Linked DNA regions of Homo sapiens. The gene in region 1 interacts genetically with each later gene. Each region holds a gene or a part of one and is shown on either strand. Other genes may lie near its edges.

Region 1 (9,134 bases):
AACTCGCACAAGGCATCGCTTTGCCTGGAAGTGGGAGTCCAAGAAGGTCTCTGTCTTGGGGAGGTGACATTTGAGCCCAGACACAGAGGGGGTTGTTGGGGGGTATGGGGAAAATGTTCCAGGAGAAGAGGGTAGCCTGTATCCCAGTTCAGCCTGCACAGGCTGGCGGGGCACCCTGCAGAGGGCTTTGGAGGCCAGAAGAAGGCATTTAGACTTCATCCCTGGGTAGTGGGGACCCCTGAGGGGTTTTAAGCAGGGGATGCTGAGGGTGTGTGTTCCAGAAAGCTCTCTCCAGCAACAGTGTGTGTGGGCGGGACTGATAGCCAGTTAGGAGGCCATTGGAAAGGCTAGAGTGGGGGAGGGCCTGGAGGGTGGGGTGGATGGAGAGGGAGGGAGCTGCTTGGGAGGCAGGGATGTGGGTTCTGGCCAGGGCAAGTTGTGCTGGGCAGGGTCCACTCCACTTTTTTTTTTTTTTTAAAACGGGTGTTTATATTAATTGCGAGATTTTTGGCATTCATTTTGATTTTTTAAAAATATGGGACTAGGCCAGGCTCGGTGGCTCACGCCTGTAATCCCAGCACTTTGGGAGGCCGAGATGGGCGGATCACGAGGTCAGGAGATTGAGACCATCCTGGCTAACACGGTGAAACCCCATCTCTACTAAAAAATACAAAAAATTAGCCAGGCGTGGTGGTGGGCACCTGTAGTCCCAGCTACTTGGGAGGCTGAGGCAGGAGAAAGGTGTGAACCCAGGAGGCGGAGCTTGCAGTGAGCTGAGATCACGCCACTGCACTCCAGCCTGGGTGACAGAGCGAGACTCCATCTAAAAAAAAAAAAAAAAAAAAAGGAACTAAAATATTCTTTATATTGATGACTGAGTTTTATGGCATTTTTGTCCCCCTGACATTTTTGTCCCTCTGACATTTTTGTCCCTGTGAGTACGTCATTCACCTCACCCTAGCCCTGGGGGCTGCCAGGAAATCATAGGTGGGATACAGGAGGCAGCTGAGGGTTTTGCCGACTTCTCTGATGTGGGCAGCTTGGAGGACCGTGGCATCACAGATTGGGAAGGGGCTTGAGGAAGAGGAGCAGGTTGAAGCTGATGGCTTGAGGGGCCCTAGGGCTGATCTTGGGGTTGGGCACGCAGTGAGTGCCCAGAAATGCTGCTGTCGGCCGGCACCACTCCCCACCCAGAGGGCCATCTATGCACAGTTCTTTAGCCTGGACTCTTGGTCACTCCCTGGAGCCTCAGCCCATCCTTGGCCCATGTGACCCTTTCTTTCTTCCCCAGCACCACCAAGCGCCCCAAGTCCATCGATGACAGTGAGATGGAGAGCCCTGTTGATGACGTGTTCTATCCCGGGACAGGCCGTTCCCCAGCAGCTGGCAGCAGCCAGTCCAGCGGGTGGCCCAACGATGTGGATGCAGGTATGGGTGCGGGGGATCCTGACCCAGAGCAAGGGCAGCCCAGAGTCTTTTTGTCCCCTTCTCAGTTCACCTGGTGAGCCTCCCACCAGTTGTCCCCCTGTCGGGGGGCATTACCCATCTGTTTTCTTGCCTCCTGATCTTCCAGGGAGGGCAGAGCAGGCTGAAGGAAGGGAGTGGAGGTGAGGGTGAGGAGGGGTGCTGTGAGAGTCAGCAGCAGAGCCCGTGGTATGGCGGTGGGAAGCAGAGGGGGTGCCAAGCCTCTGGTGCCCCACAGTGGGATGGCCGCAGCCCCTCCTGGTATTTCTCTAGAGGTTGCCCCACCCCGTGGCCTCATGGTTGAAAGCAGTTTCTCACCCTGGGGGCTCATCATTCTGTGTAGGGGATTGTTCTGTGCATGGCAGGATGTTTAGCAGCATCCCTGGCCTCCACCTACAAGATGCCAGCAGCAAAACCCCCACCCCCAGTTTTGATGACCAAAAACGCCTCCAGACATTGTCAGACGTTCCCTAGTGGGATGGAATCCTCCCAGGATGAGAACCACTGGTCTCAAGGGCCCAGCTTCACAGAGAGAGGCTCAGAGTCTAGTGAAGAATGAGCAGAGTCCTTTTGAGACCAGGTAGGGAAGCTAGCGAAGGGGAGAGAGTACAGAGGAAGCCAGCTCAGACCTTCCCAGTCTCCTCTAGGGATCTTCTTCTTGTTGAACCCACCCCCCTTCACCTCCATTCTTGACTGAGGGTGCAGACAGACCTAGAGAGGACTCTGGAAGACAGCATGTAACACGTGCGTGTGTGTGTGTGCATGTGCATGAGCACATGTGTGTGAGGAGGCTGGCCGCAAGAGTCCCCCGCTGACGTGCCAGTGGTACAGCCCGTGTTTATCCTCACTGTGGGTGTGACAGGGCCTGGGAGTGCAGACTCACGCGTGTGGGTTGTGCACAGGGCATGGCTGCTCTGGACAGGCCTGGGCCCTGGGCATCATTCTCCTCCTCCAAAAGGTGAGGGTCTGACCTAATGGTACTTTGTCTGATGTTTTCCAGATATGCCCCTACTGGGAAGGGCCAAGTGGGCAGGCAGAGTCTGGGGTGGAGCGAGGTGGGGCTGGGAAGCACTCCTGCTTTTCTGCTGCCCCAGAACGAATGCAAGTTCTGGCAGCTTCTCCTCCTCCTGGGAGGAGGAAAGGAGGGCTCGCCTCCAGGCCTCAGGCTGAGGGAGTGGGCTGGAGACCCTCTAGATGGCCAGCAGAGGCTGGCCTCTGTGAGAAGGCTTCCTTGCGTGACTCTGGGGCCCCTCCCAGGCTCTCCTCGTGGCAGGCAGGGACTTGGGCCAGCATGGGCCACATGCTTCCCTAGGGGAGCCTTGAGAGGCAGAGAGAGGAGTTGAGAAGGCCCGGGAGACTCTTGGGCTACATCCTGGGTCCCTGGCCGGGGCCTCAGTAGGTGACCCCTTCTGCAAGGACTGCCCCTGGGGTGCATAGAGGACTGTGTCTGCAGCTGGCTCCTGGGGCAAGGGCTCCTGGGCTCCTGTGCCCAGACCTAATTCCTGAGGAGCCCCCCTCTTCCTGGCTCCTGCTCTCTCCTTTCTTGGCTGTCTGCTTTTGCGCCTGCCATTTCTGCATTTCTGCTCCTTCCGGCAGTCCTGCCACGCACGGCCCCTCAACATCCTCCTGCAGCACCCTCCGGCTCCCTTTTCCCCTCACCCCGCTGTGTGTTGTTTTCATGGGCTGCAACAAATTGCCAATTAAGCAGCCCAGCTGCAGGACAGGGAACAGCTGGGGAGGCACTGTGCGGCCATGGGGACAGCTGTGCACAGCTGGTAGGATGCTCCCCCCTCCCCACTGTGCCAGCTATCAGGTGGCACACAGCTGCTGCCAGATAACACCTCCGCTGGCGGCTGGGAGTTCGCCCTTCCCCCGCCCCTTCCCTCTGCAGTTAAGATGGCTCTTTATTTCTCTGTTCTGCAGCCCCTCCACCCCTCACCCAAACTGACTTGATTTGTCCTCCAAGGGTGGCAGCTGTGAGATCTGCCCCAACTCTACCTTATCCTTCCCAGCCTGGGCACAACCTTAAAGCTCAGCCCAAGATGGGAGCTGATCTTTCCAGAAGAACCTGGCCCCCTGGGGGCCCTGCTTTGTCATTTGGATGCTATGGCCACTGGGCAGAGATGAATTTCTAAAGACAGACTTCAAACAAGGTGTTCTCTGTGCCCTTGTTTCATGCTGAATGCCACCCACACCTCTGGCACCAGAAGCAGGGCAGAGCCCTGAAATTATCCATCCTATGGCAGCTGAGCTTCTGGGTCCCCTGGCTGGGGGAGTCTTCTCCCCTCTGGCTCTGCCTGCACAGCCCGGCTAGGCCTGAGCAGCCCAAGGACTCTCCAGGTCCTCTGGCCTCTGTCCCTGCTCTCTCGCTGGGCATTGTGTCCCTCCTGAGGGCTCATGGCTGTGTGCTCCCTTCCCTAAACGGGGCCCTGGCTTCTTCCCACCAGAACCTCCCATGGCCCCGGGCACCATGGCATAGACCCCAGCCTGTCCCTCCCAAACTTACCCCTTCCCGGCTCTCAAGCTGGCGCCCTGGGGTTCCTCCTGCACTCCTTTCCCAATGTTGGTCCTGCATCCCACCCTTTCACTTCATTACCTGCTTGCCAGGGCATAGGCTGGGGCCCTTGCTCACCCCCTGCCTGGCACACACCACCCCACATTACCCAGGGGCCTCGTTTTCCTCTCTGGTTAGAAGCACCCCTTGGCTGGCCTACACACAGGGCCTCGGAACCAGGCCTAGAACAAGGCCTGGGACTGGGCAAGGAGCAGCAGGAGGGAGCACAGTGGAGGAAGGGGCAGTGGGGAGGGGCTGAGGAGAGAAGGAGCGAGCTGCTGGCTTCCCGCCTTCCCCGCACCCACCCCAGCCCAGCTAAACCTGCCCTGTGTTGCTGCTTCCTCCCCCCAGGCCCGGCTTCTCTAAAGAAGTCAGGAAAGCTGGACTTCTGCAGTGCCCTCTCCTCTCAGGGCAGCTCCCCGCGCATGGCTTTCACCCACCACCCGCTGCCTGTGCTTGCTGGAGTCAGACCAGGTGAGAAATGGGGGGCCCCGGAGGGGGGCAGTTGGGGAGGTGGCTGAGTATCTAGGGGCAGCTGGCCAGGTGAAGGGGCCAGAGCTGACCCCGAGTGACAGCCCCACGCTCTCCAAGTGGGCCAAGGTGCAGCAGCGGGTGGGCATGGGAGCCGGCCCCTGCTTCACGTAGCACCTCATCGAGGACCAGGCCGGGCCCCTGGGCTGCCCACCTGGCTCCTGAGCAACCTCCCACTTCTCACTCCTCACGTGCATGGGTGCTACATACAACACAAGCCTGTCCCGAGTCCTCCCCAACTCTGGCCCAGTTCTCCTTTTGTCCTGCCAGCTGTGAGCGGGAAGGCACAGCCTTCTGCTCTGCCTTCCTGCCGGCTCCTCTCTCCCAGCTCCTGGCTGAGCCCAGGCTCTGGATTTTTGCCAGCATGAGCCCAGGTTGATGTGGGGCCTGGATGGAGAAGAGTACTCCTAAGGAGCCCAGGCTCCTGCGGCAAGTAGCTACCTTGTCTGGGCCTCCCTGCCGCTTTCTAGAAAGGAAGGGCTGGGTCTAGGGGACAGGTGGTACCTGGGCTGCTCCCCAGGAAAAGGAACTGCCCACTGCCGTGGGGCTGCTCTCTGACTTCAGTGTCCCAGTTGAGAAGGTGCTCAGGATGAGAACACCTAGATCGCCCTGAGGAGATAGGATCAGGCAGGAGGCTGTGGGAGCTGAGACCTCAGCCCTGTCACTCCTTCACTTTCTTCTTCCCTCTCTGGGCACCCACCTGGCAGCAAGAGGCCTGGACTTTTTCTGGATATGGCCCTATGTCCGCCTGCCATCTCCTGGGCTCGTATGTAGGACACAGAAAATGAGGAGGTTTACCTCCTGGCTTCCTCCTTGGGGCCTCCTGGCTGGGAGCCCAGAGGCAGCCGGTGCTGGGGCAGGGTGTGGTGGCCGCGAGGTGGGGGTGGGGAGCCCAGGCCCTCTACACAGGCAGCAGGAGGGCGCAGGCCTGGCTCCTCCGGCTCCACCTCAGCTTTTATGAACTCCAGAGAGAAGCCAAGTTTCCTCAGCCCCCTAATGAAACCGAGAGCAAGAGCGAGCTGATTGGAAACAGACGGGAGGAGGAAGAGCTGGGGCCTGCTCTGGGTTGGGAATTGCGTGTGCAAGGACGCGTATGTGAGGACACGTGTGTGAGTGATGAGGCTGAGCACATGAGAACACCGCCTAGGTGGCGGTGGCTGGGTGCACACCAGCTCGCACTCAGGAGATGTGTGTGCATATGTCAGACGGCCATCCTGAGCAGATGCTGGCTTTGTCTTCATCCAGAGCCCCAGGGAACCCTCTGCCTCCTCTTGTCCCCCACCCAGTCTCCCACCCAGGGCCTGAATTAAGGCAGGGCTAGTGAGGCACTCACCTTAGGTGCAGAGTGTCAGCAAGTATCAAAAACTCAGTCATCAAGATAAATAATATTTTAATGGAATATGTTTTAAAATCCAAACTATTGCAAAAAAAAGGGTATGGTAAGCAAACACCAGTTTTTTTGTTTGTTTTTCTTTTTCTTTTTTCAAAGACAGTTTCCTGCTCTATTACTCAGGCTGAATGCAGTGGCACGATTATAGCTCACTGAAGCCTTGAACTCCCAGACTCAAGTGATCCCTCCTGTGTGCCACCCTGGCTAATTTTTAAATGTTTGTTGTAGAGACGGGGTCTTGTTATGTTTCCCAGGCTGACCTCCAACTCCTGGATCAAGTGATCCTCCCACCTTGGCCTCCCAAAGCACTGGGATTACAGGTATGAGCCACAGCACTCAGCCATGTCTTTGTTTAAAATGGTTTAAAATGTTGAGGCTGGGCACAGTGGCTCATGCTTGTAATCCCTGTACTTTGGGAGGCCAAGGCAGGAAGACTGCTTGAGGCCAGGAGTTCGAGGCTGCAGCGAGCTGTGATCATGCCACTGCACTACAGCCTGGATGACAGGGCGAGATCCTGTCTCTATTTAACAGATACTGGCTGGGCGCGGTGTCTCACGCCTGTAATCCCAGCACTTTGGGAGGCTGAGGTGGGCGGATCACAAGGTCAGGAGATCGAGACCATTCTGGCTAACACGGTGAAACCCTGTCTCTACTAAAAATACAAAAAATTAGCCGGGCGTGGTGGTGGGCGCCTGTAGTCCCAGCTACTCGGGAGGCTGAGGCAGGAGAATGGCGTGAACCCGGGAGGCAGAGCTTGCAGTGAGCTGAGATCGCACCACTGCACTCCAGCCTGGGTGAGAGAGCGAGACTCAGTCTCAAAAAAAAAAATTCTTTAGGCTGGGCACAGTGGCTCATGCCTGTAATCCCAGCACTTTGGGAGGCCAAGGCAGGCAGATCACTTGAGCCCAGGAGTTTGAGATTAACCAGGACAATATGGCAAAATCTCATCTCTAGAAAAAAAAAAAAGCAAAAATCTACCAGGCCTGGTGGCGTGCACCTGTAGTGCTGGTTACTTGGGGGGCTGAGGTGGGAGGATTGCATGAGCCCAGGAGGATTGCTTGCCGTGATCCGTGTTTGTGCCACTGCACTCCAGTCTGGATGACAGAGCGAGACCCTGTCTCAAATAATAATAATAACACTTTTTTAAAAAGCCAAATAAAATAAAGACAAGATCCTACCCTGCCTCATCTGCCTCATCCTAATCTCCCAGCGCTGGTTGTGATCAAACTTTATTTACAAAAACAAATGGCTGGCCTTTGGACCCTAGTTTGCCTATTTGATTATTATTATTATTATTATTTTTGTATTGCATTAAAACATCATGGATCCTGATGACTGACTTTTTTGTGCCGCCTTAACTTTTGTGCCTGTGGCGGCTGCCTTACCTGCTCAGGATCCTCAGGACCCTCTGACCGGCAGCTCCCCTCCTCTCCTGTCCCTCCCACTGGCTGCCTCCTTGGCCCTGACGCCCTTTTTTCCCTGCCCACGTGCATGCAGGGAGCCCCCGGGCCACAGCATCAGCCCTGCACTTCCCCTCCACGTCCATCATCCAGCAGTCGAGCCCGTATTTCACGCACCCGACCATCCGCTACCACCACCACCACGGGCAGGACTCACTGAAGGAGTTTGTGCAGTTTGTGTGCTCGGATGGCTCGGGCCAGGCCACCGGACAGGTGAGTCCAGAGGGCCCCAGGAGCCCGGCTACAGCCTCATCTCCACATCTATCTGTCTGTCTCAGGGCTCACAGGGAGAGGGCCCAAAAGCCAGGAGCCCACCTGGGGCTGGAGCAGCAGGGAGCTGGTAGTACCAAACGCCTCGATTTTCTGGGTCTGGGGACGGGGGTCTGTGTATTATGCCAGGGCTTGTCTATCATGGTCCGGAGAGGTGGGGGCAGCATCTGGGCCCCCTTGCTCAGTCAGGCTCCTTGCCTTTCCCATGGTCCTTGCCCCCTCAGCAGGAGTGAACTCATGATGATCCAACCCGGATCTGGGCCCTGACCTCCCAGCGCTCCTCTTAAACCTCGGGGCTGCAAGGATTTGCTAGATTCTAGACCAGGGTTTCCCCAGTATCAGCACTGTTGACATTTGGGGCTGTTTATTCACTATTGTGTGAGACCATCCAGTGCTCTGTAGGATGTTGAGCAATATCCCTGGCCTCCACCTGCTAGATGCCAGGAGCACCTCCTCCTCCCCAGTCTTGATAATAAAAAAAAGTCTCCAGATTTCAGTGTGCCCAGGAGGGGAAGACCATCCCTAGTGAGGAGCACTGTGTCAAGGGAAAGCCCCGATCCACATAGCTGCCACGGAGACTCCTGCTGGCAGGACTTTTAACAAAGGGTTCCCAGGACGGTCCTGGTTCTAGAGTGAAACCCTGCTGCTCCTCAGCCCTGGGAGACACACTGGCTCCCCCCAGAGCCCTTCTCTGTCACTGACAGAAACTCAGGGTTGCTCAGCGAAAGAATGATCCCAGGAGGTGGTGGGCCAGAGATGACCCTTCAGTGGGACAACGGTCCCTGGTTGGAATGTGGAGGTTTCTAGACCTCTGGGAAAAATCCAGAGCCTCAGCAGCATGCTGTAATAGGAGAAGCTCTAGCTCCTCTGTAGCCAGCCCTCCCAGCTTGGAAGCCTGCTGCGAGAGGTCAGGCAGGGAGGATGCTCAAAGGGCTGTGGTGGGGAAAGGCATCCCGGAAGCCCACACCAGAGGCTGCCTGCTGCCACCAGCCCCGTGCTGCCTTGGTGTGCTCTGGCAGAGCGAGCATTTGCTAAGTGCTGGTGTATTGATTTGCGGCGGGGCCGTGGCTCCGCCTCCTCACTCTGTCCCTAAGGGAAGCCAGTCCTCTTCCCTCCCTCCTGTTCCCCTCCTGCTCCTTTCCTCCTCGTCTCCCTTCTCCCTTTGCCCATCGAGGGTTTCTCTTGGCTGACTCTGCAGCTCCTTAGCATACTGGTAGCTTCGCCCACCTCTCTCTGGACAAGCTCTGTCCACTTTTAGGGCCATGGAGGGAAGAGCAGACCTGACCTCTGACAGCTGCTGTGCTTGCATCAGAGATGCCAGCAGAGTTCACGGGGAGCTACCAGCCTATGCCCAGCCCCCAAGGGGCCTGGGGTCTGGGATATGCCGCAGAGAGGCCTGGAACATTACCTTACCTGCTTTCTTAACTACCGAGGCAGCCAGGATTTGGAGTCAAATTCAGGCTGG
Region 2 (9,134 bases), on another chromosome or scaffold:
GGTCCAGCTGGGCCACGGCCCGGATGCCTCAGGCCCAGGTCTTTCTTGGGGTTGGGGTGAAGGTGGCTGTCCTCGCCCCGAAGGCACCCAGCCTCGAAGACGGAGGGCTGCCTGCCTTTGGGCCCCAGGAGACAGAGCTTGGGTGAGGCGAGGCCTGGTTTTGTTACTGGCTCCCGCTCCCTGTTTGGTGCCTTGAAGTTTTGGGACACAGACACAAAATGAAGCCAGGTGTCCAGGCTTCAGTGGCAGGGGCCCGAGACTTGGCGGCTCCAGCACTGTGCTGGTTGGTCTCCCTGGGCCTGCCAGGGACCAAATCCCAGAGTCCGCCGTGTGGGGTGAGGGCCATTTGGCACCCGGCTGAGGGGCCTGGTCAGCAGGCTCCTGGGCCCGCGTGCTGGAGTTACTGGCGGCCTGCGATTTGCTTTGGACTCACCCATTTCCTTCTCTCCCTCTGAAACGCAGAGGGGTGCGCCGGAGAGGGAGGCTGCTGGCCTGGCTTTGTTGTTTGCCAGTTGGAGGATCTATGGGATCCGGCATGGGCAGCTCCCAGGCCACGAGGTGCCGAAATTACTCAGTGGGGTCCTCAGGAACTTTCCGTTGCGTACCTCCCCAAGTATTTGTAACTTTTCTTTTAAATATCCAGGCTTATTAAATTGCACACACAGAATGCTGCATTGGCTCAGCTATTCTTGGGAGGCCTAATTAATTCAGCTATTGCATCAAACTTTTTTTTTCTAAATCTGTGAATAGATGCTCCAGCCCGGTTTTCTCTGGGCGCCCCTCCAGCAGAGTGTCAGATCGTGGGGAGGAGGGGCTGTGGATGGAAGCGAGGGACTGTCGCCTCTGCTCGGAGGGGGCTGCGGAGGGTGCATGTGTGTGTGCATGTGTGTGTTTGTGTGTGCGCGCTTCTGACCCTGCCAGGCCAGGGCTCAGGTGGCAGCCGCCTGCAGACCTGTGGGCTGGGGAAGGATGCTCGTGGCAGAGCTGCAGACAGACGTAGCAGGCTGGGGCCCTTCGTGTCACACGGGGAGTTGGTTGGGGTGGGCCCGATGGCGCTCCCTGTGGGCTGGGGCCTTTCTTTTTGGGGTGGCCGCACCCTCGTCAGTGCCTGTGGCTGGAGGAAGCCACATGTCGGGGGGGATTGTGGGCTCGTGCAGGCTGCGTAGTGGGTCACCTGTGGCCAAGGCCTGAGCTGCTGGGACACGCTCACGTCACTGTCTTCAGAGCTGATGGCAGAGGATCTCGGTTGAGCAGGGTGTGTCTGCGTTTGTTTTTGTCCGACTGTGGGTCATGTGTGTGCTTGTGGTCTTTCTGTCTTCCTGGGCTTTGCTGGGGGCCCATTGGAGTGGCCAGTGGGGCCTCGTTGTCACAGCTGACACAGAGCAGGGCCCAGGCCACCCGGCTTCTCTCTCCCTGTGGTTGTGAGCGCCGGGGTCCTTGGGCCGCCATAGAGACAGGCCAGACAGGCTCTGGTCATCTCAGCGGATGCCTCCGAGCCGCCTTTCCCTTTTGAAGTCCCCAGCACTGCTCTGAAATTTCATTTACCGATTAAAAAGCAATTCCCAGGCCATACTGACGACGTGCACGGTGTGAGTGACTGCGTCCTCTAGGCCTGAGTGGCAGCCACACAGCCTGGCCCTGGCAGTGGTGTCCTCCGCCTGGCTCCCTGAATGTTCACCAGCTCCTGCGGGTTTTCCTCTCCTCATGCTCCTGGGGGTGGGGCACCCATCCTGCCCGTGTTGCCTCCTGCTCTATGTTCTTGACGTGGGATGGCGGCCAGGGACTCTGCCCTCGCTCAGTGCCTGCCCTTTAGGCTCTGTGACTGTGCACTTGGGAGTTCTGGGCTTCAGGGTCCCCTTAAGTCTCCTCAGGACAGCCGTGTGCGTGTCTCTGTGTGCACAGGAGCGACACATGAGAAGGGAGTGTGGTCTCAGGGTGGGCGTGGACCCACAGTGCCCAGACCCTACTTGTCCTAGAAGGAGTGGCCTGGGAGGCCCCGCCTCCGCCCTCACTGGCCGCCGTTGGCTCCTCCCACTCGTGTCTTGACAGCTTATTCTCGGGATATGTTTTGATTTCTTCACTTCCTTTGTAGCTTATTTTAATATTTTTGATCTGCCGAAGATGAGGGCAGAACAAAGAATGTACTGGAACTCTCTTTGCAGGGCTGCTGCTCCCAGCAGGCCTTCGGGCTCTGCGGAGCCGGAGGGGGCTGAATTGCCTTCCGGGTGTTTGTGGCCAGGCCAGGGTCGGGTCTCCTGCCTGAGTGGGCTGGGTCAGCGCCACTCTCCTACCCATGGTGGGAGGTGGGAGAGGGCGGAGATGTTCCCGGGTCCCAAACCAAGTGGGAGGCAGGGCTGCAGCTTTCTCCTTGGAAGCCTCCTGTGACAGCGGCTGTGCCTGAGCCTCTGGCCTGTCGGCAGTGCAGTGGCAGCATGAGGGGCAGACAGTCTTCCTCCAGATGCCCCCTCATGTCACGGGGTTACAGAGGAAGCCTCCGCTTCTGTCCAGTGGCTGTCGGGCCCGGCCAGCTTCCTGCTGCTGTATCTTGGAAGACCATGTGGGCTGCATGGGTGCTTGGCGAGTCTCCTCTTAGGGACCCTGGGGCTGCTATCCTTGACAGGGGACCTTGTCTCACCTCCCCACTCGGTCCCACACTGGCTTTGTGACCTTGGACGAGTTGCTTAACCTCTCTGCCTCAGTGTAAACTGGGGACTACTGTTTATTGATCTTGGACTTTATGTTTTGAGTGGTACAGGTGGGGCACAGATGGGTCATTGTGCTGCTGGGAGCACTTAGCCAAGACTGGAGCCTCTGAGCCTTCCCCACTCCCACCCCTCTTTCTTCTTTCCGGTCGGCTCGCCTCCTTCCTCGGGTTCTCTGATAGCTGTAGGACTCCATTGGACTACATTTTTTTGTCAGTATAGACAGCTGTCAGAGACGGAGACAAAATGTGGCAGTTGGAGCTGCCGCTTGGCCTGCTGCCTGGGACGCGGCCCCTTGTCCCGCAGAACGTCAGCCAAGCGCTTTCCGTGCAGGCTGATAACAGGGTGGTGCCGTGCTTCCCTTGGGCCGTGGCAGGATCCTGCTCCAAGGGGGGGTCCTGCTCCGAGGGGGCCGGGGTTTCTGTTCCAACAGGGCTGGTGGGGGGGGTCCTGTTCCCAGAGGTCCGGGATCCTGTTCTGAGGGGGCCAGGGTCCTGTTCTGGGCCGGGGGTCCTGCTCCGAGGGGGCCGGGCGTCCTGTTCCTAGGGGCGGTGGGCTGCCTGTGTGAGAGCTGTTCTTCACCTGCCACGTGCAGTCTGGGCATTCTGGTGACTGGAGAATTTGGGTTGTGTTACAGTGTTGTTGCTCTGTCCTGCAGATGCCTGAATTCCCAGGGGTCTTGCAGGTCCCCTTGCCCTTGCGCTGTGTGGGCTGGCGTGGGTCTCAGTGGGCTGTGGGTTGAGGGTCGCTTGGTTGGGAAGCTCTGCGCGCTTCCCAGTGGAGGGTCCGCGACGGGGGTTTTCTGATCCCTCATGCTGGCTTTTGACCCGTGTCACTGCAAGGCTGCCCCTGGCCCCAGGCAGCGTTTCTTCAGGCAGGTGCCCAGCCAGGTGGTCGGGCTTGAGACCTTTGAGTCTCGAGGTCTGTTCTGGGGAATGACTGAGCTTGTGGAGGCCAGGAAGGGGTTGCTGGGCTTGGAGAGCCTCTGGGGAGGAGTTGTGTTTTGCTCTTTGCTGTTTTAAGCTGAAATGATCACAGGAAGGGACAGCATCAAGAGTTTCTTTCTGGGACACCCCTCACTCAGCTCAGCGGCCGTGTGTGGGTTTGGGGCTGTGCTCTCCCAGACACCCTCAGGTCCGGGGAGCACTTCGGGGGCTATCTGTCCCTTTGTCCACCAGCTTCCTTTGGAAAAAGTGTTTGCTGCAAGTGTTTTTCTCCAGCTTTTCGTGGGGTTCCCTGTAGTCTTGGGCCATGCTCTGGGGTCAGGCTCCCGGCAGGCCCTGGTCCCCGTGCAGAAGGCCAGGGTCTGCGGGTTTGGGCTGGTCTGCCCCCCAGGTGAGGGTTCCGGAAAGACGGCCGGCTGCTGAGTCTTCTCAAGCAGGGGAAACAGCAGCTCGAGAGTGGTTCTTGACCTCTGCCCACCCCAGCTGGCTGTGCACGGACTGGGGAGGGCATGGGCAGCTGCCCCCAGGTGGCTTCTGCAGGGAGCAGAGCTTAGTGGTCATTTTCCCGGCATGGTCTGTCATCCGTCTGTCTGGGACCCCTCTGGGAGCTGGGCTGGGTCCCTCGCCTTCTGGGGCAGCAGGGTCACGGTGGGGGGGCTAGTCCTCTCTTTCAGCATCTTGTTTCTCAGCCGTCCCTGCGGCTATTTGTGCAATGTCTGTCTGTCTGAGTCTCCGGGTGAGGGCAGACAGGATATGGTGCGAGGAAGTCTGGGGTAAGTGTGAGCCGAACCCCGCCCTGGAGTCTCTCGGGGTTGTGGGGCCACAGCCCCAGCTTAGGTTAGGCCTTCACTGCTGCTGGCAGGGCCTCCAGAGAGAAGGCGGTGGTTCCGGGGCCTGGGCCCTGACTGTCTGGCAGGAGGTGTCCACGCCGGCGGCCCGGCTCTCTGTGGCAATAATGTGTCTCTTTCTAAGGATTGCGAAAGTTGAGGGAGGATTTCTCCACTGGAAGAATTATGCAAGCTTCAACTGAAATGTTTTTAAAAAGTTTCTTTGTTTTGAGTCAAAATACAGAAGGTGAATTATTTCCCTAATATCTGGGAGAGCTGGAAAAGAAGGCCCCTGTCCTTATTCTTCAGGGCTCTTCCCCTCCTGAGCAGTGGTCACCAGGCCAGGGTGTCATGGAGGGGGGGCTGCCTGGGGACCAGCTCTTTACACCTGGCCTCCAGAGCGGGTGGTAGGGCGGCTCCTTCCTGCCCTGCCCTGGCTGTCACCCTCGTGGTCTGGAGCAGGGTTTTTTTTTGTTGTTATTTTTTTTTTTTTTTGAGACAGGGTCTGTTTCTGTTGCCCAGGCTGGAGTGCAGTGGTGCGATCTTGGCTCACTGCAGCCTCCGTCTCCTGGGTTCAAGCGATTCTCCTGCCCCAGCCTCCTGGTAGCTGGGATTACAGATGTGTGCCACCACACCCAAGTAATTTTTTTGTATTTTTAGTAGAGATGGGGTTTCACCATGTTGGCCAGCCTGGTCTCGAACTCCTGACCTCAAGTTATCTGCCCACCTTGGCCTCCCAGAGTGCTGGGATTACAGGCATAAGCCACTGTGCCTGGCCCCTGGAGTGGGTTCTGCCACGGAAGGCATCCCCGGGGTCTGCGGGCTGGAGGGGTCGCCCCCACTGTGCCACCTGTTCTCTCGAGGCCTGGTTGCCCTCTGCAGACCAGGTGCCATGCCAGGTGACCCTCAGGAAGCTCTGGCTCACCCCGGGGGCTGGGGGGCATGATAAGCGATAGCTCTTAGGTGCTGCTGCTTTGTGAATATGAGAGAGTTCCAGAAGGGCCCCGCTTCCCAGAGCCTGCATGTTGGTTTCACTGTGTGGTACTTGATATTTTTCCAGGCTGCCTTGCTGGGGTGGCCTCGATGGGGGGCCCAGGGAGCCTCCAGCTCTGGGGACATGCTGCCACATGAGCCTGCTTATTTACGAAAATGAAGAACCAGGACTTGAGTGTGAATTTTAAATGAGATTGTGGGGACAATAGTAAAATCCAGACTAGGACCAGATGGACTGAGCACCTGCGTTGGCCATGGCCCGGAGGTGGCGTGGTGGTGCCTGGCGCCTGTGGCCCTCAGCATGTGTCCTGCCGGCCGCCTAGTAGGCCTTCGCTTGAAGTGCTTATTCCTTTGAGTAATGCTCCTGTCTTTTGTTTGGGGGGAAACAGATAAAGGGGGCTTTGAGAGGCGTCTCGGCGTGATCCTGGGAAACGGCCGAGATTCTGTTCGGTGCTTGGTGTTCGTGTCTTCTCTGATTTTACCTTTTTGACTCATAAAGATGGAAGGAGTGCTCTGCCTCGGTGCCTCTGCAGCTGCAGATGCTGAATCGGGGCGTTTAGGCCTGCCTCTTGGGCTGGCACACCTGGCGGCCTTGGTCAGGCCTTCTTGGGCTGCCTCTGCTGGGGTGCTTGTCTCACTGGCCGTGGGGGTTGTTGCCTGTGTGGTTGTGTTGCTGGCTTCAGGGGCTAGGGTTAGGGACGCCTGGTCACGTCTGGGTCCCCAGTTTGGGGGCCAGATTCAATAACTCACTGAATGACTCAGTGGAACTCTGCAGGCACTGGCAGTCAAGGTTTATTGGCAGGTCCATTCTTTGGCTAGAAGGAGAATGCTGTTTCTTTTCTCACTGTTTCACCATTTTTTTTTTTGAGATGGAGTCTTGCTCTGTTGCCCAGGCTGGAGTGCAGTGGCGTGATCTCGGCTCACTGCAACCTCAGCCTCCCGGGTTCAAGCAATTCCCCTGCCTCAGCCTCCTGAGCAGCTGGGACTACAGGTGCGTGCCACCACGCCTGGCTAATTTTTTGTATTTTAGTAGAGACGGGGTTTTACCATGTTGGCCAGGATGGTCTCCATCTCCTGACCTCTTGATCTGCCCACCTCGGCCTCCCAAAGTGTTGGGATTACAGGCATGAGCCATTGCGCCTGGCCATTGTTCCACCTTTGGAAGAAATTGGTTCACCGTCTTCTGACCTGGGGGGCGCTTCTACCCTGGTTCCATATTGAGGGCTGGGAAGTTGCTGGAATATTATTACCCTTGGCTGGTGAGGCTGAGTGCTGATGCTCCTCCCAGCTCTCAGCCCTGCCTGGACCAACTGCGGCTTCTGCTGGAACGTCGGCGGCTGACTTAGAAAGAAACAGCTCCTGTTCTAGGCTTCCTGCAGGTCCCACGGTGCTGCTTGTTTCAGAGAAACGCAGCTCAGGCTGGCGGCCTCAGGTGGGCATGGGTGGCAGGGGATGCCATCACCCAAATCAGGGATCTTTCTCTGTCCTGAGGGTTCCACCCCAGGACCCAGGGCACTAACTGGGTTCTTGTGTGGCCCTTCCCGACCAGACCTGACCCCTGAGCTGCGTGTGTGAGGTGATGGTGACTCCACGACAGCTTGTGTGCCGTTATGGGGGCACCTGAGGACTGGCTGACCTCACCGGGAAGTGCGTCAGGAGTGGGTGAGGGGTGGTGGGAGGGCAGGGAGCGCCCAGCAGGTGTCCAGCGGTGCTGGCGCTGCCTCTGTCTCTCTGTCCACGCCCTGTGTGTATCTGGAGTGGCTTAGGTGCTCCCTGCGGTGCTCCTGGCTGCTGTGGTTCCTGAAGGCTGCGGCTGTGCCGGTGGTTTCCTTTGATGTCAGTCTTCTTCTACAGGGGAAACCATGTTGCCAGGAGAGCCAGGTGTCCGCTAATTACGTTGTGTTGTTCTGCCCAGGAGTGAACCTGTAAGTGATGAGAATAAGAAGCGGCTGTCAGCCTGCAGACCCGCCCTCACCCTGTCCTGGTTGGGGTGCTGCCTGCTGGGAACCCCTGGTCCAGCTGTTGAGAGGAGGCTGACTGGGGGCACAGTTGTTGCAGAGTCTGATGCAGGCTTTCTCTGCCGGGAAAGTAACATGGAAACATTGTTGCTTTTACTATGGAGCAGATGTATCTTTGCCCAGAAACAGAAATGCTCTTGGTTTCTTTTTTTGGAAATAAGGCCCATAGGCTGGGTCCTTCTTGCCCTGTTGAGGGAACGTGTCTGTCCTTAGCGTGGAGGCCAGTCTGGCCGGGTGCTGAGCTCGTCCTGCAGAACACGCGTGAACGCCTCATCCCTGAGGGCCCCGGGAGGCTGGCGCCCTCTGTGGGAGGTCTGAGGTTGGCCCATTTGACCCTATCCAGGACGGGTTACTTAAGGAGTCCAACGGGCCTTGAGAGGCTGATCACCCTCGTGTGGCGGGCGTCTCTCCCCGGTGCCCTCCCGCCTGGTGCTGTCAAGGGCTTCTCTGTGCCAGGCGCTGGGCTGTGGCAGCCCCAGGTCCCCGCCTGGTGTGGCTGCCCACGGTCCAGGCAGCTCCAGGGTGGGCATCCTTGGCTCCCTCCCTCACCAGCTGGCCCTGGGAGGTCTGTCTGAGAGGAGTTAGGCCTCATTGTCCGTGCTCAGAGAACCCGAGCCTTCCTTAGGAAGCAGTTTGTCCCCGTGCCTCCCTTCAGGATCCTGTGGCCTGAGAAGCCTCTGCGTGGCAGTGGATGGCAGCTCCAGCTGCCCGTGGCCCTCTTTTTTTATGGTTTCCCAGATGACTGGGCCAAGCTGGGCCTCTGCATCCTAGGCATGCTGTTCCCTGCGCTTCCCTGGAAGGTCGGCGGCCCTGCGTGGACCTACACGGTACCCAGGACAGGCCTGCCATGGCACCGGTTGGGCCTCTGGGCACAGGGTGCTCTGCCTCCATGGCCCTGACAGGCTCTGATGCCTGAGGATGGGGGCCGGGCACTCCCAGCCTTGAGACTTCCCTCTGCAGAGGTGGCACAAGCCCGGGGCCCCAGAGTGAGGGGACTCTTGCCTGCCTGGTGAGGGTGAGCGTGGGGTCTGGACTCTGACCCCTGGTCCAGGCGGGAGAGGAGCACACTGGACAGGGCAGCCGAGCCACCCTCTGCGGAGCTGTGGACACTGCGTGTGTGGTGCTGAAGGTGTACACGTCCACTGAGGCCACCTGCGCCGCTGCCTGTGTCCTGTGGGCTGGCACTCACCGAGTGAGAGCTGTGTGCAGAACCTCCGCTGTCAGCGGGCCAGGCCACACTGGGGAGGGAGGTATTCCGTGTGCTTGCACTGAAGCCTGCCCCAGGCTGCCTTCTGGGTTAGGGATACCCAGGACCTCCATAGCTGGTGTGGCGTCTGTGAGATCTCAGCTGCTGCTTCCCTGGACGCCCGTGTGGACCTGGAGGGGGGTGGGGACCCGGCCTGGCATGGTCCCTGGCCACCTGCCTGGTGCTCCGGGTTGTGCCGTTGGCAGTGCCTTCGCTCTGCCTCACCTGCTGCCTCCGCCTTTCCTGGCTACAACCCTGTTGCCCAAACCATTAAAAAAATTATACTACCAAGTTGAATGATATGCAAATGTAGTCAATTAAGCGAGGGGATTTTAATTAGCAGTTTAAGTTCATGTGTGAAGTGCCTTGCCTTAATTACTTGACAGTTTTGTTGTAAATTTGCT

The links.
Region 2: of NFIX (region 1) and SKI, changing one enhances a phenotype caused by changing the other (phenotypic enhancement), as found in Homo sapiens cells (one study listed by BioGRID).

What each region holds. Positions count from the first base shown.
Region 1 is NC_000019.10:13,074,244-13,083,377, forward strand, and holds part of NFIX (nuclear factor 1 X-type), read left to right. Parts: intron 1-1,291; coding exon 1,292-1,428; intron 1,429-4,369; coding exon 4,370-4,492; intron 4,493-7,436; coding exon 7,437-7,612; intron 7,613-9,134.
Region 2 is NC_000001.11:2,230,093-2,239,226, forward strand, and holds part of SKI (ski oncogene), read left to right. Parts: intron 1-1,351; exon of another isoform or gene 1,352-9,134. UniProt on the Homo sapiens protein: May play a role in terminal differentiation of skeletal muscle cells but not in the determination of cells to the myogenic lineage. Functions as a repressor of TGF-beta signaling.